Homo sapiens: one gene and its partners. The protein of the gene in region 3 purifies or fractionates together with the protein of the main gene of each other region. This does not show direct contact. Each region holds a gene or a part of one and is shown on either strand. Other genes may lie near its edges.

Region 1 (4,247 bases), about 22 Mb from region 3:
GAAACAGGGATGCAGGAGAAGATGGGTGTATTTGGGAACAATCATGTTGGGAATGACAAATGAACTTCTATTAAGAAATTAAAATAAAAAACCTGAACCAAACATCAAAAATCCTGAAAACAAACCCCATTAATCTAACTGGAAAATTACAAGAGGATGGTAGTGGTCTAGGAAGCTAAGTGGGGCTACATTTCCTAATAAACCAGATGAAACTTTCTTTACCTGTCACAAGTTATTAAAGAGATTTCAAATTCTGCAGAATTCGAAAGTAACAGTTTTATCACAATACATGCTAATGCTAGTTATTTTTCCTAAATTGAAATCTTATTACATGGAAGTTGGGAAATTCTAGGACAGACTGTTCTTAATGTTAAAATATATTTTTAGAAGAATATTCCGGCATACATTTCCTTTCTTGTTTCTCTTCAAGTGTCCTAGTCACCCAGGTGCATGCTAGAAGACAGCAATATGTCAAATATAGTAGCAACTTTAGTCTGAAATGTTTAAAGTTAAAGTTTATTTGTATTCTTTGTAGGAATATCAATAAAAGACCTCAAACGTATCTATATCTGTACATGTACAAGAACTGTCAAAAATTATTCACAGAACAAAAATAAATCTTCTTTAGAACAAACCCAGGTAATGAAATGCTGATACGGATCTCACATACGGAATAATCTAAATGCTACTAGCACAAAAATATGGCTTTAAAAATAAAATAAAATCTTGGGTTTTGTTTTTCTAAGGTGTATTTCTCTTTCTTGAAATAAAAAATAAATTATTTAGAGCTATCATTGTAAAATAGTCGTGTGTTAACACACTCTTATTAAGGCCCTGGAGATGAAAAACAAAATCAAATTTAGAAGGTCATTTCCTCACAGGTGTAACTCAGGTTAATGTGCTGCTGTCTGCTTAAGTTAATATAACTAGGAAATGTCTAAGCACCAGTCAAAATTTAACCTAATTTACTATTTAACTTTCCTGAAGGTGGTCATTGAGTCAATTAGTATTTAACCTTTTGTTGAACTGGGAATTGAAATGTTTCCCTCGAAAATTTGGAAATCACATAAAATGATATTTACACATAAATATCTGTACCCCCACAAAGATGATGGAGGTCCCTAAAACACAACTTCTGTGGAAATCTCTCTACAACAACAAATAAATCTGGTTTTAAGTCTCAAACTAAAAAAAAAAACAAAAAACTTCCTAGGGTCAAATGAGGGTATTTAAGTGGAAGATAGCAACTGAGTAGGAAAGGAAAATGCATGCTGAAATGCAGGCAAAGACTACCACTTTCCTTTCCTCGGGTGCTCACTGCATTTCCCAAGTCTTGCTGTGTTGGTTACTCAAACACTTGAGGCTTAACTGATCAGGAACTGAAACTACTTATTTCTGGATCCTACTCTCAGATCAATGATATTCAACTTTATTTCTATGATTCCCCATGGTATCAATAATGATATCTAGGGTTCTTGAGACAATGCCAAACCAAGTCAATTTCAAGTTGCTTTAACTTATATATACATATAACACATATAGTACATTTTTTAGGATGATAGAATGTCATAAAATCTAACAGACGAGAGCATAAAATCTGAAAATCTCAAAGTTTGGGAATCACTGCTCGATAAAATGGATTAACATTCAGAAAAAGGAAGCCCCAGGAATTATGTTTTGTGTGGGTGTGTGCATGTGTTGTCTACAGAGACTGCCTTTTTATGTATCTATGTATTTTAAGAGTGGGCAAGGGATATAAATATTCCTGTTTCCTGGAAACTCTGGGCTACTGAGAAGACTGCTTATGCATTCATTCCCTTAGGGTCGTGTCTCTTCCTCAGGTTCTTTCACTCCTCCTAAGATATTTATTCTATCTCATGCAAATTTCATCACTTTTGTCCTTCCTAAACCCAAGAGTATACATAATCGGGTCATGACAAAGAGAATGCTTCTAGAACTAATAACAATCATTCAAACATGAAAAGAGATTCTATTTAAAAATTCAACACTCCAACATTTCTTGCTTTTAAGAAACTAAATCCTTCAACTGACGCATTGAAAAAACAAAGTATCTCAAATTATCGGCCCCCAGGTAAGGGGTAGGAAGGCAACTATTTACTGCTGGGGTAAGCAGGAGATTTCACTATTAGACTTGAAAAAGGGAAGGAGAATGGAGAAGGGAGCCCTTCTGGCTTTCCACAGTTGATAGGAGAAGGTGGCCTCCAAAGGTGTAGCTGAAAATGCAGTGAAGCTATGGCATGTGGCTGTTGGGTTTGGCCCTGTGACAAGTCTAGTCTGGTGTCAAGCGTGTGTGTTGGGCTCAATGTCACAATGGGGTAGACTGATGGGACTGAGGTAATCCTGAAGAGGGTTCCTTTCCCACGCTCAGTCCTATAACCAGCCTTCTCAGGAACTCCAAGCTAGAGGTAACTAAAACTAACCCTCTATGGAAGGGGAAACAAATACGAATGCAAACTCACTTGATGGCAGTTATTTTGCTCTGGGACTTCCAAAGAAGAACTCTGCTCTCAATCTGGTGTACCTCTGAGAACACAGTGAAAGCCAGGGGTCTACAGAACCACAGACCCATCAACAAAGGCCCCGGGTAGACTAAGATCTGAAAAGCTTTACTTCCAAAGTCAAGCTCATTCTTAAGGGCATATAGTTAACACTTGTAGCAGTCTTAGGTAATCTTCTTTTTCTTTCATAATCTTAACACCATCACAGAGAAACACGGAAGCAGACCAGTCAGAGAAAGCTAATTCTGACCAACTTGATACTATATGAAAAAAAGCAAAAAGCTATAGCAGCATGATTACCTCATTTTACCACATTTTTCTTACCGTTAGACTGCCATAAACCCCAACAGTACCTTGGTGATAGTGCTTGGAACATGGTAAGTGCTCAAGTGCTTGTTATAGTTACCTAGTTATAATCTCCCCTCTGACATGGCTTTTGCTGCAGAGACTCAGGGAATATGATGACCTGATGGAAATGTGACTCTTTTTGCTGCTTCAGCTCAGATTGCTTATTGCTTCAGTAATATAAAAGGGGAATATGAAGCTCTTTTCTGACTCCTACCAACACTGTCCTCATTAATGGTCAAGTCTGTTGTCAGCTAGACATGCACTTTACAAGCACTTCACCTGAATTCCAAATTCCACTCAACCCTGATCTATCCTGCGCCCCACAATGTGGTGTTGTTTTGAGGGAAACAGGAAGTGCAAGACATTGCTATCTTAATCTATTTGCCTCTCTTCAGCCATGTACCTCCTCCCAGCAAACAAAGTTATTTACCTACTTGAACTGAGGGAAAGCCAATTAAGAAACATCTCCATAAAAATTATCACCTGTTGGTGGCTTCTCTTCTTAAAAAATCCTTCAGAGTAACTTATACAGATTGCAGCATTCTCTAAAGAAATACTGAGAAAAAAGGTTGGACAGGAGTAGGCTCACAGGATAACTTAACATTTAACATCTATCAGCAACTCTGAACTTTTAGCTTATTGGTAATGCTCTATTATTATTATTTTTTACTATTTCTTCTTCATTCAAGATAACCTGGTAGTAGAAGGCTGCATAATCTGTCCAAATGTTTTGGGCATTAAATCTTTCAGTGAAGACAGCCCTCTAAGGAGCTCCCATAATGCTAATAAGATACACTCTATCCATCAAAAGCACATTTGATTTTTTGGGGCTTCTCTCAATTCCCAATATAAGTAATTTTATCAGCCCTCTGTAATCCATAATCGGCACTTAAGAGCTTCCAAACCTCAATGGCAAGACATCACCCACATTACATACTTATGGCCAATGAAACTGACAATTCTCTTACCAGGTTTTCTGTGGCACAATTGAAGGCTTTTACAAAGAATGAATTAAACATGGCTTGAGCTGAGAATAGCCAGAAACAAGAACAAATCTATGCTTACATCCCTCCTCCTTCAACAAAGGACACTACACTTTGGAACAGTTACCTCTTTTTCCTAATAAAATAAGTGATTTTGACCACAGTGTGCCCTCCGCTTGGAGAGAAGGTGTAAGAATTTGCAAACCAAAACCAAAGGTGAAGAAAACGTAAAAGTGCCAAAACAGCTGGATATAAAGTGTGCAGATCAGATAAACACAGTGAGAAACTCCCATTTTAGATCTGTCTGGCAGAAACAGGGATTGCTATGAAAGAAACTGTTTTAAAAGGTTGTGGGTTATGTGGCCATGGTGAGGTTGCTGAAACGTAAGGTCCAACA
Region 2 (3,500 bases), on a different chromosome or scaffold from region 3:
TGAGATTTATTCACTATCACAAGAAGAGCATAAGAAAGACCTGCCCCCATGATCCAGTTACTTCCCACTGGGTGCCTCCCAGATGTGGGGAATTGTGAGAGCTACAATTCAAAATGAGATTTTGCTGGGGACACAGCCAAACTGTATCATTCCACCCTGGGCCCCTCCCAAATCTCATGTCTTCACATTTCAAAACCAATCATGCGTTCCCAACAGTCCCCCAAAGTCTTAACTAATTTCAGCATTAACTCAAAAGTCCACAGACCAAAGTCTCTTCTGAGACAAAGCAAATCCCTTCCGCCTATGAGCCTGCAAAGTCAAAAACAAGTTAGTTACTTCCCAGATACAGTGGGGGTACAGGCATTGGGTAACTACAGCCGTTCCAAATGGGAGAAATTGGCCAAAACAGAGGCTTACAGGCCCCGGTGCAAGTCCAGAATTCAGCAGGACAGTCAAATCTCAAAGCTCCAAAATGATCTCCCTTGACTCCATGTCTCACATCCAGGTCAAGCTGATATAAGAGGTGGGCTCCCATGGTCTTAGGCAGCTCTGCCCCTGTGGCTTTGCAGGGTATAGCCCCCACTCCTGGCTGCTTTTATGGGCTGGCATTGAGTGTCTGTGAGTTTTGCAGGCACGCAGTGCCAGCTGTCGACGTATCTACCATTCTGGAGTCTGGAAGATGGTAGCCCTCTTCTCACATCTCCACTAGGCAGTGCCCCAGTGGGGACTCTATGTGGGGGCTTCAACCCCACATTTCCCTTCTGCATTGCCCTAGCAGAAGTTTCTCCATGGGGCCCTGCCCCTCATGGAGGGGACACAGCCCTGCAGCAGACTTCTTCCTGGATATACAGGTGTTCTCATACATCCTCTGAAATCTAGGCGGAGGTTCCCAAACCTCAGTTCTTTACTTCTGCACACCTGCAGGCTTAACACCACATGGAAGCCGCCAAGGCTTGGAGCTTGCACCATCTGAAGCCATGGCCCAAGCTGTACCTTGGCCCCTTTCAGCCATGGCTAGAGCACCTGGGACACAGGGCACCAAGTTCCTAGGCTGCACACAGAAAGGGGGCCCTGGGCCTGGCCCACAAAACCATTTTTTCCTCCTAGACCTCTGGGCCTGTGATGGAAGGGGCTGCTGCAAAGGTCTGACATGTCCTGGAGACATTTTCCCCATTGTCTGGGTGACTAACATTCGGCTCCTCCTTACTTAGGCAAATTCCTGCAGCCAGTTTGAATTTCTTCTCAGAAAATGGGATTTTCTTTTCTATCGCACTGTCAGGCAGCAACTTCTCCAAGCTTTTATTCTCTACTTCCCTTATAAAACTTAATGCCTCTAACAGCACCTGAGAACCTCTTGAATGCTTTGCTGCCTAGAAATTCCTTCTGCCAGATACCCTAAATCATCTCTCTCAAGTTGAAAGTTCCATAGATCTCTAGGGCAGGGGCAACATGCCACCAGTCTCTTTGCTAAAACATAACGAGTCACCTTTGCTTCAGTTCCCAACAAGTTCCTCATCTCCATCTGAGACTACCTCAGCCTGGATTTCATTGTCTGTATCATTATTGGCATTATGGTCAAAGCCATTCAGCAAGTCTCTAGGGAGTTCCAAAGTTTCCCACATTTTCCTGTCTTCTTCTGAGTCCTCTAAACTGTTCCAGCCTCTGCCTGTTACCCAGTTCCAAAGTCGCTTCCACATTTTCGGGTATCTTTTCAGCAGTGCCCCACTCTACTGGTATCAATTTACTGTATTAGTCCATTTTCACACTTCTAATAAAGACATACCCAAGACTGGGTAACTTACAAGAAAAAGCGGTTCAGTGGACTCACAGTTCCACGTGGTTGGGGAGGCCTTTTAATCGTGGTGGAAGGCAAGGAGGAGCAAGTCACATCTCACATGGCAGCAGGGAAGAGAGAACTTGTGTAGGGGAACTCCTCTTTATAAAATCATCAGATCTCATGAGGCTTACTATCATGAGAAGAGAACGAGAAAGACCCACCCCCATGATTCAGTTACCTCCCACTGGGTCCCTCCCACGACGTGGGAATTGTGGGAGTTACAATTCAAGAGGAGATTTGGGTGGGGACACCACCAAACCGCATCACCTGGCAAGGTGGCATGTGCTTGTGGTCCCAGCTACTCAGGAGGCTGAGTGGGAGGATTGCTTGAGCCCAGGAGATTGAGGCTGCAGTGAGCCATCATGGTGCCACTGCACTCCAGCCTGGGTGACAGAGAGATACCCTGTCTCAAAATAAAAACAAGGGTCTCACAAGACCTGCTTTGCAACCAATTGTTAACAGTTCACATTATGTTTAAGTATATGTAGTAATAAAGCTGATTTTCTTTCAGAATTATAGACTTCAGGGGTTTGATAATTCGTACTTGTTTTCTGAATTGGTAAGGAATAGTGCCAAGCATCAAATGGATAAGGACCCTAAATAATAAACCTTTATTTTCAAATATTGCTTCCATATCTACCTGCCAAGTTCTGGCAGCCTTTTTGATGATATACAAATGCCTATATTATAGTTCCTGCAATTCTTCTATTTTAATGAGGACCTACTTAAACCACGAGACTTATTTTACATTTTCACCATTATTTAAATAAGATTGTTCATTCATAGAGCTTCTGTTAGCCTACGGTCTGCTAAATATTGGTACCTATGCAAAGACAGCTGATGTTCCCTGCTCTTGAGGAGCCAGGGGAACTTTTCACTGCAATATCTGTAGTAATTTTACATTTTGTCTTTTAGATAAACTCAAGCCATGGAGGGATTACTGCATTACATCAACCCTGCACACGCCATTTCTCTCCTAAGTGCCCTGAATGAGGAGCGTCTCAAAGGACAGCTGTGTGATGTGCTGCTGATTGTTGGAGACCAAAAGTTCCGAGCTCATAAAAACGTCTTGGCTGCCAGCAGCGAATACTTTCAGAGTTTATTCACAAATAAGGAAAATGAGTCACAAACTGTATTTCAGCTTGACTTCTGTGAGCCAGATGCTTTTGATAATGTTTTAAACTACATTTATTCTTCCTCTCTATTTGTTGAGAAGAGCAGCCTTGCTGCTGTGCAAGAACTTGGCTATAGTCTTGGGATTTCCTTTCTGACTAACATCGTTTCTAAAACACCTCAAGCCCCCTTTCCAACGTGTCCTAATAGAAAAAAAGTGTTTGTAGAAGATGATGAAAACAGTTCTCAAAAGAGAAGTGTCATTGTTTGTCAAAGTAGAAACGAAGCGCAAGGAAAAACTGTTAGTCAAAATCAACCCGATGTAAGCCATACTTCCCGGCCCTCTCCTAGCATTGCAGTCAAGGCCAATACCAATAAGCCACATGTCCCAAAACCAATAGAACCACTTCATAATTTGTCATTAACTGAAAAGAGTTGGCCGAAAGATAGTTCTGTGGTATATGCAAAGTCTCTTGAGCATTCTGGATCTTTGGATGATCCTAATAGAATCAGTTTGGTGAAAAGAAATGCAGTGTTGCCTTCAAAGCCT
Region 3 (3,500 bases):
TTAAAAAATTATCTTTTTGACAGACCTAGTTCCTTTTCAGCTTGAATTATAGATGACACTTCACTTTTTGTGTGATTAAGAAAGCAGAAGGTTTTCTGTGACCTCACCAGTAGCGGACCAAAACCATATTAAATTCTGATTTGACTTAAAGATTGATCTTTCAGATTTAAATATGGGGATGGGTGTGTTAAACCACTTAAGAACTATTTTACATCCTCGATAATAAAACTCTAATTTAGAAATATACCATAATGGCCGGGTGCGGTGGCTCACGCGCATAATCCCACACTTTGAGAGGCCAAGGCAGGTGGATCCTTTGATCCCAGGAGTTTGAGACCAGCCTGGGCAACTTGGCAAAACCTCATCTCTACAAAAAATAGAAAAATGAGGCAGGCATAATGGTACACATTTGTGGTTTCACCTACTCAAAAGGCTGAGGTGGGAGAATCACCTGAGACCAGGAGGTCGAGGCTGCAGTGAGCCATGATTGTGCCACTGCACTCCAGCCTGGGTAACAGAGTGAGACGCTATCTCCAAAAAAAATAATAATAATAAAATAAAAATAAAACAAACAACAAAAAAAAGGAGAAGAAAATAAATATACCATAATGTTGAAATATAAAAATATAGGGGGTTCTTTCTAAATGCCAAACTTCTTAGTTTGCAGAAAGAAAGGGCATGTTTCCATGCAATAAGTTTATAAAGCAAATAGCATGTTCAAGTACAAAAGACTCTTTCATGAACTGCGGATGAACCTTCTGAGTGCTGGACATAATCTCAAGATTTAAAGTTGGTTTACTTAATATATCTTCTAGAATACAATCTTTAGGAAAATGTTTTGGCATCCCATTCATAATTCTCTGTCTAGTCTAAACCATAGATACTTATTGCTAATGTCATATAAAGCTGTGTGTGTGTGTGTGTGTGTGCACGTGCACATACATGTGCCTGTTTGCACATACCTTGTACAAAAGTGCTACTTTGCAGGAGGGAGTAGAACAAATCACATAATTCAATTCTTTGTTGCATGACCCTGGGTGCTTGGCTTAGTCCAATTCAGGTCATAGGCTGAAAACAAACTACTAGTCCCAGCCCAATTTTGAGGATGTCCAAGAGGCAGACTGTTTTTATCCCAGATAACCAAAGAAAAGCATGTAAGGATCTGGAACAGATACTAATTGTGAGAACGGTAGCTTAAGCCTAGAAGATACCGCTGTACTGGTTGATTTCTTTTTTCTTTCTTCCTTCCTCTTCCCTCCCCATGGTTGATTTTAAGCTGTTTCTTAGCTGCAAAGTGAGGAATTTTCTAAGAATTATGTTAAAATCAGAATCAATTAAAGAATCCATATAGTACCTGCAAGTAATTTTTTTCTGAATATAGTTACCCCCTGAATTAGGGATGTACTCTTAAATACGGAGTCTATTATGCACTAATTAACAAGAACCTTCAGAAATCTTTAAGAGGAAAACATGTTCCATGAATTTTGTCCTTGGGTAGCCAGTGAGAGAAATCCAGGAATAAGTATCTCCTTCTTCATTAATGCTGATGCTTTTCTGAGAGATAGCATTGAAAAGAAATCTAACTTCACTACCAAATGTTGTGTTCTCTTTCAGTAAATTTTTATTTTTCTATTTTTATTCTCACAAAAGTGTTTTATCTTATAATTATATTTTAATTCTAAACTATAGAGATGACCAATTTAGATGGAATTAGAAGAAAAAATAGTTTGATAACCTTAAAAAAACTACCAGTAATTTATGTTATATATTTTGCTAGCAAAATACTTTCGTGTGTACATTCACTAAATCTTCAGCATTATTTTACTTGGCTTTAGAAGAGTTAACAGCTAATAATAGCTAACCTTTATTGATTGCTTGCTGTGTGCCCAGCAGGATGCATAGCACTTTGTGTCCATCATCTTACTTAATCTTCCAGTGGTTCTATGAAGTGGGTACTATTATTACGCCAGTTTACAGATGGGAAAATGAGAAATGAGAGTTTAAGTAACTTGTCCAAGATCACAAAACTAGTAAGTGGCAGAACCAGGATCTGAACCAGGATCTGAATTTGTTCTCTTAACTATTACAGCATGTCTCATTTTTTAGAGATCTATTTTTAAAAATTCTATCTAGCCACACCAAACAATCTTTAGGAAACAAAGGTTTCTTCTCTTTTTCTGAGGGGGAGCAAGAACCCGTATACTTGCTCAATTATTAATGAAATCTAAGTTGGAAGGGTTTTTTTTTTTTTCACTTTCAAAGTTGTTAACTATTTGTGTTTCCTCAACATTCAGATAATAACCCAGAATGTCTTGGTGATACTATTCCAGTTCCTCAAATTTCTTTTAAGAATAGTATATTCTTTTACCTTCCCCCTCATTTTGATAACTCTTTCTGCTTGAATAGTATTCTTGCTCTTCCCGTATAAGAATTTTCAGTTTAAATTAAGTCTGAATTAAAGTAGATGAATTTTATTATCTTCAAAAGAGCAGAACTGATTATTTGGATACAAAGTGTTCAAAATCTGTTTTGTGATGCTTTTATACTTAAATATTTAAGCCAAATGTCAGTTAGTGTAAATTAGCAGTATGTTATATTAAGTATTGAGCTTCAAAACTATAGCTATTGTTGCCGTGTATTTAACTTTGGTAATACCTAGCGTTATTTAGAAAAAAAGAAATATTGGTGAGTGGTCTCATTTCTCATGATTTATTTTATTACTGGTACATTAGAATTTACAGTACTGATTTTTTTCCTATGCGTTATTTGGTACTTATTTATTTTCATGTATTTTTTTTATATCGTAGGCTCGTTATCGGAAAGAGCAAACATTGCTTAAGCAACTGCCTTGCATTCCATTGGTAGAAAATTTGTTGAAGGATGGGACAGATGGCTGTGCATTAGCTGCCCTTATTCATTTTTACTGTCCTGATGTTGTCAGATTAGAGGGTAAGTGTTCCATTGTAATACTTCTGAACTGTAGACAGATAGTAACCAATATTTAAGACAGTATTATTTTGCACTCCAGCCTAGGTGACTGAGTGGGACCCTGTCTCAAAAAAAAGACAATATTATTTAATAAGTACTGAAGACTTTTTTTTAAAAATAAAGAACATTTATATATAATTCTGAGGGAGGTAGTTCAAAAAAAAATAGTGCTCGGTTTCTAAGTCTTAATGTATAATGACTACTATATTTATAAATGTATGTTTGTTAACCAGAATTGTGTATTTGTACTAATTACAAGATGGATATGAAATATTTATTATCAAATTAATCCAAAGTCACCACCTTGCTCTTTTCTTATTTGAAGATATTTGTTTGAAAGAAACTATGTCTTTGGCTGATAGCCTGTATAATCTGCAGCTGATTCAAGAATTTTGCCAAGAATACTTGAACCAGTGTTGCCATTTCACTCTGGAAGATATGCTCTATGCTGCTTCATCCATAAAGGTAAATTAAATTATTCTTTTTTTCCCTTTGCTTTGTTAAAATATGTT
Region 4 (3,500 bases), on a different chromosome or scaffold from region 3:
CACTTGTGAATTCCTTGAACCTGGGCATTGCAAACCCACTTCTGTTGGGCCCATCTCCTTTGCACTTTGCTCAGATTAAGACTCAGTTGGCGCTTCAGCAGCTGAATGCCGTTGCCTCACATGGTTCAACACCACCTTATACTTTATTAAATCAGGCTTTCTTGAAAATAGCCATGTCGAGACCCAGGTTTAATCCTCGAGGAGACTTTCCACTTCAAAGGCCACGAGCACCTAACCCTTCTGGGATGAGGCCTCCAGGACCATTTATGAGGCCTGGATCTATGGGTCTCCCAAGATTTTACCCAGCAGGGAGAGCACGTGGAATTCCACACAGATTTGCTGGCCATGAATCTTATCAGAACATGGGGCCACAGAGAATGAATGTTCAGGTAACTCAACACAGAACTGATCCAAGATTGACCAAAGAAAAACTGGATTTTCATGAAGCACAACAGAAGAAGGGGAAGCCTCATGGTAGCCGGTGGGATGATGAGCCTCATATATCTGCATCAGTGGCAGTGAAACAGAGTTCTGTAACACAGGTTACAGAGCAGAGTCCCAAAGTACAGAGCCGCTATACAAAAGAGAGTGCCTCAAGTATCTTAGCAAGTTTTGGATTATCTAATGAAGACCTAGAAGAACTTAGTCGCTATCCTGATGAACAACTAACTCCTGAAAATATGCCATTAATTTTGAGGGATATAAGAATGCGAAAAATGGGGCGCCGATTACCTAATTTACCTTCTCAGAGCAGAAATAAAGAAACACTTGGTAGTGAAGCAGTTTCAAGTAATGTGATCGATTATGGGCATGCAAGCAAATATGGCTACACAGAAGATCCACTTGAAGTACGTATTTATGATCCTGAAATTCCAACTGATGAGGTCGAGAATGAATTTCAGTCACAGCAGAACATTTCTGCATCTGTTCCCAATCCAAATGTGATATGTAATTCTATGTTTCCTGTTGAAGACGTATTTCGCCAAATGGACTTCCCCGGTGAGTCCTCCAATAATCGGTCCTTTTTCTCAGTTGAGAGTGGAACCAAGATGTCAGGCTTACACATTTCAGGAGGACAGTCAGTCCTTGAACCCATAAAATCCGTCAACCAATCCATTAACCAAACAGTTAGCCAGACAATGAGTCAATCTCTGATTCCTCCATCTATGAACCAGCAACCTTTTTCGTCGGAATTAATTTCATCTGTAAGCCAGCAAGAGCGGATCCCACATGAACCTGTGATTAATTCATCTAACGTACATGTTGGATCAAGAGGAAGTAAAAAGAATTACCAGTCACAGGCTGACATTCCCATTCGGTCTCCCTTTGGTATTGTGAAAGCATCCTGGCTACCAAAGTTTTCACATGCTGATGCCCAGAAGATGAAGAGACTTCCAACTCCTTCTATGATGAATGATTATTATGCAGCATCTCCAAGAATATTTCCACATTTGTGTTCTCTGTGTAACGTAGAATGTAGTCATTTGAAGGTGAGTGTTTTTAAAAAAAGATCACTGTATAATGATGCTCAGCGCCAGTTTTCTCTAAATTCTGATATGTATGCTGCTTGTTAACTAGGCGTTAAGGAAATGGCAGAAGGTAATTTTAATTGCAACCTCAATACATAGTTGTAATCTTAAGTAGCCCTGGCCTTAGTACTGAATTGAATTTTAGGCTTACTGTATTCCTATGACCGGGCACACCATATTTTAGTAGTGTGTCCATTTATTTTGAACTTTTAGTTATCCCACTTACGCAACATAAAATTTATGTAACATAAGCTGCGTACTTACAAGACAATGTCACATGGAATCACCTTTCTCTAAAAGGATCTGTTAGTATAAAAATACAAAGAGATGGTATAACCCATTTGTAATGCACACATTTAAGAGACAGTATATTATAGCCTTGCACATATACACCTGTCTTGGGATAAAGACAATTAATGTTGATTTAAATATTTCCTGACTTTATGTAGACTAGTGATTTTTAGTATTTTTTGAGAAGAAGCTTTCTAAAATAACTTCATAGCAAAAATAAGTCAAGGTGCAGTAATTATTCTGGGACCAGCTGTGGACTCAGAAAATAGTGTAAAATGATAGAAATTTGTAGAGAAAAATCTTTAAAAAATAAAGATGATTTAGGTAGTTTGATAGTATAGTTAGAAGGAAGTATTTTGCAGAGGCAGTGAAGTGTACTATAATGTAGAACATACTGTTCAGTCGTAATCATTGGTAGATTTGAGCAGGAATTTCCAAGTAAATTTTATTTACTTACGTATGGTTGGCAATCACTGTTTCTTCTATTTACTAATGTGATTTATAGATTTAGATTGTAAAGGGTCAGAAGAGAATATACTAACATGGGAAAAAGCTTTGATTCAAGGCCATGGCCTGGAATTGGTTGTATACTTAGGCTTAAAAATCTGTGTGTTAACGCTCTTGTTCTTTTCTTCCAGTGCTGCCTTTCGATTTTCTTTTCATTATTTACTCACTAGGTTTTCGTCAACATGAATCTGATAATTAGATCTGTTGGTATTTTCTTAAGGTTAACTCCAGCAAAAGAAAGCAGCATTCTACCCCATTTTAGCCAGATGTGCCAAATTCTATTAAAATAATAGTTGCCTTATTCCATCAGAAGGGATAGCAAAGTCCTTACAAGGGAAAGTCTTAGAATAATTCATATCACCTAATTGTAATCTGTAAGTAGCCCTGGCCTAAGTAGTGAATTGAGTGTTTGTCTGTATTCTTGTGACTGGGCATACCACATAATTTTTTTTAATTGATTTTGAACTTTTAATTAATCATAATGAATCCAAGAAAATACATCTTTAAATAAAGAACTTGAAGTTTTGTATTCTGTAGAGTAGAAAAGGTGTACATTTAATTTAGTATGTACTTATGGATACCAGTTTTGTACTTGACTCCAATTAGGTACTGGGGCAGAAATGAGGAACTGTGTAAAATTTTAGATGTTATTAAGCAGTTTATTCAGTCTTATTGGGGAGAAAAATTATGCTCCCAAGACATTTAAAACAATTAGAAGACAACAAGTGGTTTTGTGATTGATTTAACTTGTTTGGATATGCTGTAGGGGACAGAGATTTCTGTCTTGATTTCAGGCATGTATCACTCAGGCCAGCATCATCAATTTACCAATTTAATCATTACCAATTTGCCAATTTAATTATTTTAACTATTGTATTTGTAACAGTATGTGTTTAAAAATAAGTATAAATATGCATCCTGACATCAAAAGACTTTTATAGCCTAGTTAGACTAATGGAATGTCAGTTACTAAATGCACTAAGTCTGTCTTGACTAGAATGATGTGGGAGAGAAGACTTCATGGAGTAGGTTGAAGATGGGTCTTGAATTGAGGCTTTAGATATGCCTGTATAAAGAGGAGGAGGGGGCCGGGCACAGTGGCTCACTGCCTGTAATCCCAGCACTTTGGGAGGCCGAGACAGGTGGATCACCTGAGGTCAGGAGTTCAAGACC
Region 5 (2,806 bases), on a different chromosome or scaffold from region 3:
TACTATGCAAGTAGAATTTTAAAAATTAGTTCCAGTTTACTCATTTCCCTTGAAAAGTACCCTTCTGCCACAATGTAAATAAAAAATGGTCCATAAAATGGTGACATTAGACAAATCATAATTTGTAGTGTGGGCCCTTTAAATGGAGACCAAATTTTTATTAATCCAAAGCTAGAGATTTTATTTCTTCCATATGCCCAAAGTAACTAATATCAACTCGCATTTTCTGTATGCCTTAAAGAATTTTTATTTAACATAATGAGAGTTTAATAACTTATATTAAAGACGGCGTGGTGCTCTTTCTGTTGCTGTTCACCAACTGTTTTTATGACGATAACTTCGAGATCTGGAATGTGACCGAAAATGAGAATGCTTTGCTGTTTGTACTTTAGTTTCAGAATTGGTATACCCTTTGGGAGATTTACACGGGGATCTTGCTATTGAGTCAGAATGTCTTCCATGTGATCTTGATTTTGTTCCTGAGCTAGTCTGCTTTTGAGGTGAACTTGACTGTGATTTTCCTATTGACTTGGACCTCTTTTGTAAGGACTTGGACCTTGACCGTCCTCTAGAGCCAAAATTCCTTCTTGGAGTTCTTGACTGCCTTGCTGAGGTAGACCGCCTTGGTAATGATTTGGAACGAGATTTAGACTGGCTATAAGAAAATCGCCTGTGTCGAGACCTGCAAACATCCATAATGTTAGAGCATATATTTCACACAAAATAAGAGATCAGGAAATAACACTTTCAGGAACTTACATACTTTACATAACATTAGTTATATTTTTACTAGATAAGCTAAAAAAATTTCTCATTTTATTATGCATGCTTTTGGTTCAAACATAAGTAACAAGTTTGTAATATTTGTTATACTAGAATATATGGCCAAAAATTTTTACTTTGCTAGACATATAGGGATCAGTTCTGAAAAATACACTGCATATTTGGTCTGAGTTATACAGCTCTTAAGAGGTACAAAAATCTGAAGAAAAAAAGATTAAAAAAATCAATTATTTACAGTTCAAATAATGCTTATAAAAATAAAAATCTAGATGTAGGACTTTTGGGTCCTGCCATGACAGAACAGCTTGTATTAGACTAATCTTCCCATAGAAAACAGCTCTCTCTCTCTCTCTCCATATATATATACATATATATATGTGTGTATATATATACACATATATATGTGTGTATATATGTGTGTGTATATATATATGTGTGTGTATATATATATGTGTGTATATATATATACACACACACACACACATACATGTTTTTTTTTTTTTTGAGACGGAGTTTCGCTCTTGTTGCCCAGGCTAGAGTGCAATGGCACGATCTCAGCTCACCGCAACCTCCGCCTCCCAGGTTTGAGCAATTCTTCTCTCTCAGCCTCCAGAGTAGCTGGGATTACAGGCATGCGCCACCACGCCCAGCTAACTTTGTATTTTCAGTAGAGATGGGATTTCTCCATGTTGGTCAGGCTGGTCTCAATCTCCCGACCTCAGGTTATCCCCCTGCCTCGGCCTCCTAAAGTGCTGGGATTACAGGCGTGAGCTACCACACCCAGCCGAAAACAACTATATTGAAAAGCTACACAACATTTATAAAACAACTGTTCGAAGGCACTGGAGGATAATCAACACAAGCAGGAAGAACCTGAGGGATTACAAGCCTTGGCTCTTTTACTAAGACCATTTTTCAAATGACAGCATGGAGGAGTTGAGCCCAACCAGAAAATGGCTATTTGACTAAGCTGAAGAGAGAAAAGTTAATTCAGGGCTACCAAAATGGGTGGGACACGAGAGGCAAAAACTCTAGAGAAGAGTGAATTAGAGACCAAAAAGTACCTCTAAAATTTGCCTACAAATTATCCTTAAATCACTGGCCATCTTCTAAGTTGTGTGTGTATGGAAGAGATTCCAAGGGACCAGCAAAAAACCGGAATTCAGAAATTCAAGAACTGCGCTGAAATTTTTATCAGACACACAGTGCTGAGAGAGAGATTAGAGTTCAAACTCCCAAAAGGTCAATGAGGAACATTAGGTAACAACCCAGAAGGGCTACAATCTAGAGGTAAGGGCCATGCCCTAGGAATAAATTCAAAGCCAAAACAAGCAGCTTTAACAACACCCAAAACCAAGCCTTAAGATCAAAGTGATCTGCCAGTACTCTGTCTACCAGAAGAAAACTGTCTTTGGAGAATGATAATGTCATGCAGAGCCTCTATAATTTTTTGTCCATGTCCACATGTTATGTTAAAAAAAAAAAAAACAGGCAAGAATAACTAAAAACTAAGGAAAATAAAAGGCAAAGAATCATTCCCAAAGTGATTTGGATATTGGCATCATCAAACAGGAATTTAAAAAATTACTATGAGTAATATATTTAAGAAAATAAGAGGAAAAGACAAAACAGATAAAAAGATCGTTCAGTGGAAAACTACAATCTATAAAAAGAAACAAATAGACATTTAAAACTAAAAATATATGATATCTGAAATTAAAAAGTCATTAGATGGTCTTAACAGCAATCTAGATATAGCAGAAGAAATAATGAACTAGACTGGGTGCAGTGGCTCATGCCTGTAATCCCACTTTGGGAGGCCAAGGCGAGTGGATCACCTGAGGTCAGGAGTTCAAGACCAGCCTGACTAACATGGTGAAACCCCATCTCTACTAAAAATACAAAAATTAGCCTGGCATGGTGGTGCATGCCTATAATCCCAGCTACTTAGGAGGCTGAGGCAAGAGAATCAATCACTTGAACCTGGGAGGCAGAGGTTGCAGTGAGCCAAGATCGTGCCATT
Region 6 (3,500 bases), on a different chromosome or scaffold from region 3:
AAATGCCACGTTAAGATGGTCAGGAAGCCTGGGGACCAGTGTTAGCAGTGGCCTTCCCTTTGTCCTGCAAATTCACAAATGACTTTACCAATTTCTGTGGCCTTTACTGTGGCCCAGAAAGTGAACTTGGAGTCAAACAGGACAACCCGTAGGTAAGAAGACGGTCAAAAACTCCCACAGCCGGCCGGGTGCGGTGGCTCACGCCTGTAATCCCAGCACTTTTGGGAGGCCGAGGTGGGTGGATCACAAGGTCAGGAGTTCAAGACCAGCCAGGACAACATGGTGAAACCCCATCTCTACTAAAGATACAAAAATTAGCCGGGTGTGGTGGCGTGTGCCTGTAATCCCAGCTACTCGGGAGGCTGAGGCAGGAGAATCATTTGAACCCTGGAGGCGGAGGTTGCAGTGAGCCGAGATCACACCACTTCATTCCAGCCTGGGCAACAGGGCAAGACTCTGTCTCAAAAAAAAAAACAAACAACTCCCACAGCCAGCCAGGTGCAGTGGCTCACGCCTGTAATCCCATAATCCCAGCACTTTGTGAGACTGAGGCGGGTGGATCACTTGAGGTCAGGAATTCAAGACTAGCCTGGCCAATATGCAGAAACTCCATCTCTACTAAAAACAAATATTAGCCGGGTGTGGTGGCATGTGCCTGTAGATCCCAGCTACTTGGGAGGCTGAGGCAGGAGAATCGCTTGAACTCAGGAGGCAGAGGTTGCAGTGAGCCGAGATCACGCCACTGTGCTCTAGCCTGGGTGAAAGAGTGAGCCTACATTTCAAAAAAAAAAAGATGTAGCTGGGTGTAGTAGTGCGCGCCTGTAGTCCCAGCTACTCAGGAGGCTAAGGTGGGAAGATCGCTTGAGCTTGGCAGGTTGAGACTGCAGTGAGCTATGATCACACCACTGTCCTCCAGCCTGGGTGACAAAGCCAGACCCTGTCTCAAAAAGAGAAAAAAAAAAATTTCCACAAATAGCCAGGATAAGAGGAACTGAAAGCTGGAGCATTGAACTTGGACCTAGCCTGGTCCAGCAGTAGCCAGGGGGAGGCTCTGGGAGGAGGCAGTGTTCAAACTGAGGCCTGGAGGGCAGGAGGTGACCAGGTTGCAGATCCAAAGGAAAGAGTGAAACAGGCAGCATAGGCATAGACCCTAAGGTTGGACCATACCTGGAGTGGGACTGACCTGCCACTGTCCCCATTGAAAGCTGGGGAGGCCCGGCATGGTAGCTCACACTTGTAATCCCAGCACTGTGGGAGGCCAAGGCAGGAGGATCACTTGAAGCCAGGAGTTTGAGACCAGCTTGGGCAACATACTGAGATCTCGTCTCTATTAAAAAAACAATTAGCCAGGCATGATCGCACATGCCTATAGTCCTAGCTACTTGCGGGGCTGAAGTGGGAAGACTGCTTGAGCCCAGGGGTTTGAGGCTGCAGTGAGCTATGGTCGCACAACTGCACTCCAGCCTGGGTGACATAGCAAGACCCCATCTCTACAAAAAGTAATTTTTTTTTTTCTTTTTTGAGACAGAGTCTCGCTCTCTCGCCCAGGCTGGAGTGCAGTGGCACGATCTTGGCTCACTGCAAGCTCCGCCTCCTGGGTTCACGCCATTCTCCTGCCTCAGCCTCCCGAGTAGCTGGGACTACAGGCGCCCGCCACCACGCCCGGCTAATTTTTTGTATTTTTAGTAGAGGCGGGGTTTCACTGTGTTAGCCAGGATGGTCTCGATCTCCTGACCTCATGATCCGCCCGCCTCTGCCTCCCAAAGTGCTGGGATTACAGGCGTGAGCCACCGCGCCTGGCCTACAAAAAGTATTTTTAAAAATTAGCCAGGCGTGGCGGTGAATGCCTGTAGTCCCACCTACTTGAGAGGCTGAGGTGGGAGGATTGCTTGAGTTTAGGAGACTGAAGCTGCAGTGAGCCATGATGGCACCACTGCACTCCAGCCTGGGTGACAGAGCAAGAGCCTGTCTCTGAAATAATCATACTTGGCCGGGTGCGGTGGCTCACGCCTGTAATCCCAGCACTTTGGGAGGCCAAGGCGGGCAGATCACCTGAGGTCAGGAGTTTGAGACGAGCCTGGCCAACATGGTGAAACCCTGTCTCTACTAAAAATACAAAAATTAGGCTGGGCGTAGTGGCTTATACCTGTAATCCCAGCACTTTGGGAGGCCGAGGCAGGCGGATTACCTGAGGTCAGGAGTTCAAGACCAGCCTGGCCAATGTGGTGAAACCCCATCTCTACTAAAAATACAAAAGTTAGCCAGGTGTGGTGGCAGGCGCCTGTAATCCCAGCCACTCGGGAGGCTGAGGCAGGAGAATCTCTTCAACTCAGGTGGTGGAGGTTGCAGTGAGCCAAGATCTCGCCACTGCACTCCAGCCTGGGCGACAGAGTGAGACTGCGTCTCAAAAAATAAAAATACAAATACAAAAATTAGCTGGGCATGGTGGCACACGCCTGTAATCCCGTCTACTTGGGAGGCTGAGACAGGAGAAGCACTTGAACCCAAGAGGTGGAGGTTGCAGTGAGCTGAGATCACACCACTGCACTCCAGCCTGGGTGACAGAGCGAGACTCCATGTCAAATAAATAAATTAAATAATCATACTAATAAAAAATAAAGCTGAGGAAACTGAGGCTCCAGGCAGATAAGGCTGAGCAGGGAATCAAACCCAGGTGTACCTAAGGCCAGATCACATGTGGTCTGTGGCTGGACCATGTTTGCCAGGCATTCGCTAGGGGCTGCCCCTCTGCCAAGGCCTGGGGCAAGAACATATTGGACCCTCCACCTGGGCTGCACCCTGAGCTGAGGAAGATGTTAGGAGCTGACACCCAGGGGGCCTGTGTCTCATCCCGTCTTCACAGGCTCAAGGCTCAGAGCCTAAGTTTGATCATGACTGAGCACTTCAGAGCCAGGGCAGCCCACTGGCCCTTCTAGAAGGTTCCTAAGTCATTGCTTCATCCAGCCTCCCGGATGTGGCTTCATGACAGTGTCATGAGAGCTGGTCAGGGGAGGCACTGCATCCCCAGCCTGGGGTGAGAACTCTAGAGGCCTCAGGAAATTGCTGGGTGATGCAGGGTGAGGCAGGGAGGCTCCAGCTGAGCCTCCTCCCTCATCTTGCAGAGATGGTGCCACTGAGTCACCTCGAAGAAGAACAGCCCCCAGCACCTGAGTCCCCAGAGGTGAGTAGCAGAGGCTGGGGGACCCCCGCTCATCTTGTTCTTTCCAGAGTGGACCAGGCACCCGCAGAAAGGGCTGGGTTTGCCGAGGTCTTGCATGTAGCTTAATTAGCATCGGTGACTTTGGAGGCAAGGTGACGGCACGTGGGACTGCCCTGCCTTGGAAGTCGGGTGGGGGCAGTGCTGGAGGGGCACTGGACAGGTGAGTTTTGCAGGACGTGTAAGAATTTCCCAGGAGGAGGGCACAGCTGTGAGCAAAAAAGTACAGAAAGTCAGAAGCTGAGTTGGAGAAGTTTGGACAGGGGAGGAGGTAGCATCGGGC
Region 7 (4,238 bases), about 200 Mb from region 3:
GCAGGTATGCGGGTGTGGGGAAGGGCTGCAGAGGACTCAGGTCCACACCGACCCTGGGCCAGGTGATCACACAGAAAGTATAGACAGGGACTGAACCTCAGAAAACAATGGCTGGGCCAGGTGCAGTGGCTTACGCCTATAATCCTAGTACTTTGGGAGGCCGAGGCGGGTGAAGTTTGAGACCCAGCCTGGGCAAAATGGTAAAACCTCATCTCTACACACACACACACACACACACACAAATATATATATATATGAATGAAGTAGTCGAGTGTGGCGGGACCTACTTGTAGTCCCAACTACTAGGGAAGCTGAAGTGGAAGGATCGCTTGCACCTGAGAGGTCAAGGCTGCAGTGAGCCGTGAGCCCGCCACTGGACTCCGGCCTGGGGGACGAATGAGACACTATCTCAGAAAAACAAAACAATGTCTGGCACCTGGGGGACCAGCAGGTTAGAGCAGCTGGTCGTGCATTGCCAGTTTACCTGACAGTGACTCGAGAGCTGAGAACTGGGTATAGGGCACATTATTGGGATATTTGAGGCCTGAAGGCGCTGATGAGCAGCCACCAGTTCAGCAAGTGCGGGCTGGGTGGGACCCGCAGTTCCAACAAACACTACAAAGTCCGCTCCTGTGGCTTTGGCCTCCTCCCCCAACTCCCCGAGTCCTCCAGCCTGTGGGGTGCGCAAAACACGGCTCCCTGGTCCCCCTAGAGGTGCCCCAGGCCACCGGGTCCTCCCTCCACTGCCAGCCTTGGGATCCCAAGCGTAGACCTCTGAGGACGTTCGTGGGCGTGCAAGGCGCACCTGGCCGCTAGAGGTGGGCGTGAGGCCGATCGCGGTTCCCCCAGGCGCAGGGCCGCCCTCCCAGCCCCGACGGACAGCCCCGAGGGAGCGCAGCGCTGCCGCAGCTGCTCTAAGTTTCGGTTCCCAAATCCGGCTCGGCCCACACCGTGTCACAGCCCGGTAATTAGGGAAGCGGCGGCGGGCGGGGCCAGCTCTCGCGGGGCACCTGCACTCCCCTGAGCCGGCCCACGTGGTCCGGGAGGTCCCGCCCGCGGTGGCGGTGAGTTGGGGGCGGGACGCCGGGCTGGGATCACAATGTCGGGGGCGCCTAGGCGTAGACGTGGCGGGCGGACCCGGGGGCGCCCTCCGGACGCGGCAGGTGAGTGGGGACGGGAGCCGGGGGCCGCCCTCCTCGGGGCGCCGACCCCCGCCTACCCGAGTCGCGGACGCCCGCCCCTGTCCCCGCTGCCCGCCTCCACTCCCTGGTCACTGCTCTCCACCGCGATTCGCCCCTCTTCCCCACCGCCCGCCTCTTTCCCGCCACGCCCGCCGCCTCCCGCCCGCGCGGGGTGTCCCGGCGCCGGTGGGACCCGGCAGACGCGCGGGACGCCCCACGTGCGCGGCAGCGCGCATGCGTGGCGGGTGCGCCTGCGCAGTGGGCGGGCGCGGCGCATTGCTGCTCGGCGGCGCCGGCGCCGGGGTCCGGGCGGCCATGGGGCAACAGGCGGCCAGGGCGCCAAGGGCCAGGTAGCGACGGCTGGCGGCGGCGCGGCGGCGGGGCCTGCGGGCTCGGTCCGGCATGTAGACGCCCCCGCAGGCGCCCGCGGCAGCGAACGGTGAGTGAGCAGACCCGGCCTGCCGTCCGCCTGGGGTCGCCCGCTGCCTGGGGTCATCGCTGCCCGCGAGCGCGCGGCCAGGCGGGGAGACACCAGGCCGGCCCTGCCCATCTGGCCTGCTGAGGAGGCCGTGGAAGTGCTGACGGGCCACCGCTCCGTCCCGAATGGGGCACCAGCACGGCCCAGGGCGAGGCTCGGCCTTGGGGACGGGTCTGAGGGAGGCCGCTGTCCGGCCTGGCTCTCCCGGGCGGGGAAGGTGGGGCCGTCCAGCCCGGACCGCGCTTGTCAGTCGCCTCTGCTTGGGCGGCCAGGTCCTCGGTGTCCGGCCTTCCGTGGGTGGTTTCAGCAAGCAGGAGGGGTCTTTGACTCGTGAAAGCTTAGAGGGGCCCAAACCTAGTGGGAAAGTATGAATAAAAGATTCTATACAGCAGTATTGGCATGGAATTCTCTAAAAACACATCTCTGATTTAGTGCCCAGTACTTGCCAGAAAATTCCAATAGTCTATGGTGATGTTCCTACAGGCGGCTGCCATCCAGTAGGTCAGATGTCAGCACCGGCCTTGAGCTCTAGGTCGTCGTTTTTTTTCTTAATTGTGGGAACAGGGCGTGCCCAGCTCCGAAGGCCTGGTGGAGTTTTCCTTCCCAGGCCAAGGACCACCCCCACCCTCCCATCCCTCCTCCCCAAGCAATGAGATTCCTTTTGGCTTCGATTCCGAGTAACAAGTTATTTTTCCTTTCTTGTTTTGGAACACACTAAGTTTTACATTCAAAAGTTCATTATTCTTGGCTCTTGATGGGAATACATTTCAAAACTCTTCTCTTCTTGTGTTCCATGTCTCTCTGACAGCCTTAGTTGGCCTGAAACTGACATGTTTGCCTTAATAAGTTTTTTTTTCCTCCTGATGTCATCTTGTCTAAGAAGCTAGTTACTTTAACACCTTGTTAGATAATTCCCTTCAAGTACTTATTCCCCTGAACATTGTCCTCTCAAGCCTCTGGAAATTTCCTGTCCCCTTGGAACTTCTCTGTAAGGCCTGTTTGCTCTCAGCAGTGACTTCACTGGGACTTTTGCAGCCACTTTATGGTGTTAGCACGCTGATTCCAAGCTACTTGAGGAATCACAGGTGCCACCGCAGTACCCAACAAAATAGCTTCATCATTTGGAGGTGTCCTCTCGAGATGTTTCTGTGTGTATATGTGTGTGTATGTTAGAAACAGGGCCTCACTCTGTCCTCCAGGCGTGTTTATGGTGGCATGATTATAGCTCACTGTAACCTCAAATTCCTGGGCTCAATTGATCCTCCCACCTCAGCCTCCTGAGTAGCTGGGATTACAGGCCTGCACCACCACACCTAGCTGATTTATAAAATTTTTTGTAGAGATAGAGTCTCACTGTGTTGTCCAGGCTAGTCTCAACCTCCTGGCCTCAAGAGATCCTCCTGCCTCCACTTCCCAAAGTGCTGATCTTACAGACGTAAGCCACTTTGACCAGTCTTTTTTTTTTTTTTTTTTTTTTAAGACAGAGTCTAGCTCTGTTGCCCAGGCTGGAGTGCAGTGGCACAATCTCGGCTCACTGCAACCTCCACCTCCCGGGTTCAAGTGATTTTCCTGCCTCAGCCTCCTGAGTAGCTGGGATTACAGGCGCCCACCACCACGCTCAGCTAATTTTTGTATTTTTAGTAGAGACGGGTTTCACTGTGTTGGCCAGGCTTGTCTCGAACTCCTGACCTCGTGATCAGCCCACCTTGGCCTCCCAAAGTGCTGGGATTACAGGTGTGAGCCACCACAGCTTGCCTCACTTGGACCAGTCTTTTTGTTTGTTTGTTTCATTTGAACTTGGAGGTGGGTTTATGTTGTTTCAGTTGGCAGCCTGCTGTTTGGTTCCAAAACAGCATTTTCTTCTTGAAACAACTGCTGTCAGCAGTTAGATTTCCAGGCTAGCACAAAAACCTGTTTGACTCATAAATCCTTGTAGTGAGGGTGTCCCAGAAAGTTGGCCAAGTCAAGAGCAGTTCTTGTGGAGTGGAGGCGGTGAACAAATAGGGGGAAAGTGGCGCTCGTGATGAAAACGGAAAACAATAGTTGATTTTATTGAGCTTCACGCTTGAGGAAATGTAGGTCTCACTTGGAAAATTAAGAGGCAGGTGGGTGTTTGCGGGACTCGACGGCCTTGCATCTGGATTACCTCCAGTCTGCAGGTGTGGTAGGATGACAGCAAGAGGGAGTGTTGAGCACACAAGCCCAGCACTTGGGGGGAGGCTGTGTCATGGCAGGAAGGTACAGGGCCTCCTCCAGCAGCTCCACTTTCTAGTCCGTATATACCTGTTGACAGTCACCGCCCAGCTTCAGCCGTTCTGGACAAGTGGGTGTCAGTAATGCTTTAGCTTGTAACCCCAGGATTTCATTTCTACTCTCTGTGCTGGTGGCTTATCATTTGCAATCTTTCCTGGCCCACAATTGCAAAGGTCCTAGCATTCATGCATGGGAATGGGGAAGTGAATAAAATGTGTGTGTGTGCTTCAGACAGATGGTGAAAAGTGTTCAGAGAAAAAGCGAAATTGAGGCAGATGGGATGTGAGGATGCCACGCACACTTTGTGCAACTGAAGAGGGAGGTGA

Evidence for each region.
Region 1: the proteins of CAMSAP2 (region 3) and RASAL2 purify together in Homo sapiens (affinity purification with mass spectrometry, with the first as the bait; one large-scale study listed by BioGRID). This does not show direct contact.
Region 2: the proteins of CAMSAP2 (region 3) and ZBTB21 purify together in Homo sapiens (affinity purification with mass spectrometry, with the first as the bait; one large-scale study listed by BioGRID). This does not show direct contact.
Region 4: the proteins of CAMSAP2 (region 3) and ZNF638 purify together in Homo sapiens (affinity purification with mass spectrometry, with the first as the bait; one large-scale study listed by BioGRID). This does not show direct contact.
Region 5: the proteins of CAMSAP2 (region 3) and SRSF12 purify together in Homo sapiens (affinity purification with mass spectrometry, with the first as the bait; one large-scale study listed by BioGRID). This does not show direct contact.
Region 6: the proteins of CAMSAP2 (region 3) and MAST3 purify together in Homo sapiens (affinity purification with mass spectrometry, with the first as the bait; one large-scale study listed by BioGRID). This does not show direct contact.
Region 7: the proteins of CAMSAP2 (region 3) and NADK purify together in Homo sapiens (affinity purification with mass spectrometry, with the first as the bait; one large-scale study listed by BioGRID). This does not show direct contact.

The regions. Positions count from the first base shown.
Region 1 is NC_000001.11:178,475,104-178,479,350, reverse strand, and holds the end of RASAL2 (ras GTPase-activating protein nGAP), read right to left. Parts: 3' UTR 501-4,247; downstream 1-500. UniProt on the Homo sapiens protein: Inhibitory regulator of the Ras-cyclic AMP pathway.
Region 2 is NC_000021.9:41,993,361-41,996,860, reverse strand, and holds part of ZBTB21 (zinc finger and BTB domain-containing protein 21), read left to right. Parts: intron 1-2,752; 5' UTR 2,753-2,765; coding exon 2,766-3,500. UniProt on the Homo sapiens protein: Acts as a transcription repressor.
Region 3 is NC_000001.11:200,829,393-200,832,892, forward strand, and holds part of CAMSAP2 (calmodulin-regulated spectrin-associated protein 2), read left to right. Parts: intron 1-2,807; coding exon 2,808-2,949; intron 2,950-3,313; coding exon 3,314-3,453; intron 3,454-3,500. UniProt on the Homo sapiens protein: Key microtubule-organizing protein that specifically binds the minus-end of non-centrosomal microtubules and regulates their dynamics and organization.
Region 4 is NC_000002.12:71,348,782-71,352,281, forward strand, and holds part of ZNF638 (zinc finger protein 638), read left to right. Parts: 5' UTR 1-173; coding exon 174-1,490; intron 1,491-3,500.
Region 5 is NC_000006.12:89,098,266-89,101,071, forward strand, and holds part of SRSF12 (serine/arginine-rich splicing factor 12), read right to left. Parts: intron 683-2,806; coding exon 313-682; 3' UTR 1-312. UniProt on the Homo sapiens protein: Splicing factor that seems to antagonize SR proteins in pre-mRNA splicing regulation.
Region 6 is NC_000019.10:18,125,278-18,128,777, forward strand, and holds part of MAST3 (microtubule-associated serine/threonine-protein kinase 3), read left to right. Parts: intron 1-3,122; coding exon 3,123-3,181; intron 3,182-3,500.
Region 7 is NC_000001.11:1,775,671-1,779,908, reverse strand, and holds the start of NADK (NAD kinase), read left to right. Parts: upstream 1-1,438; 5' UTR 1,439-1,620; intron 1,621-4,238.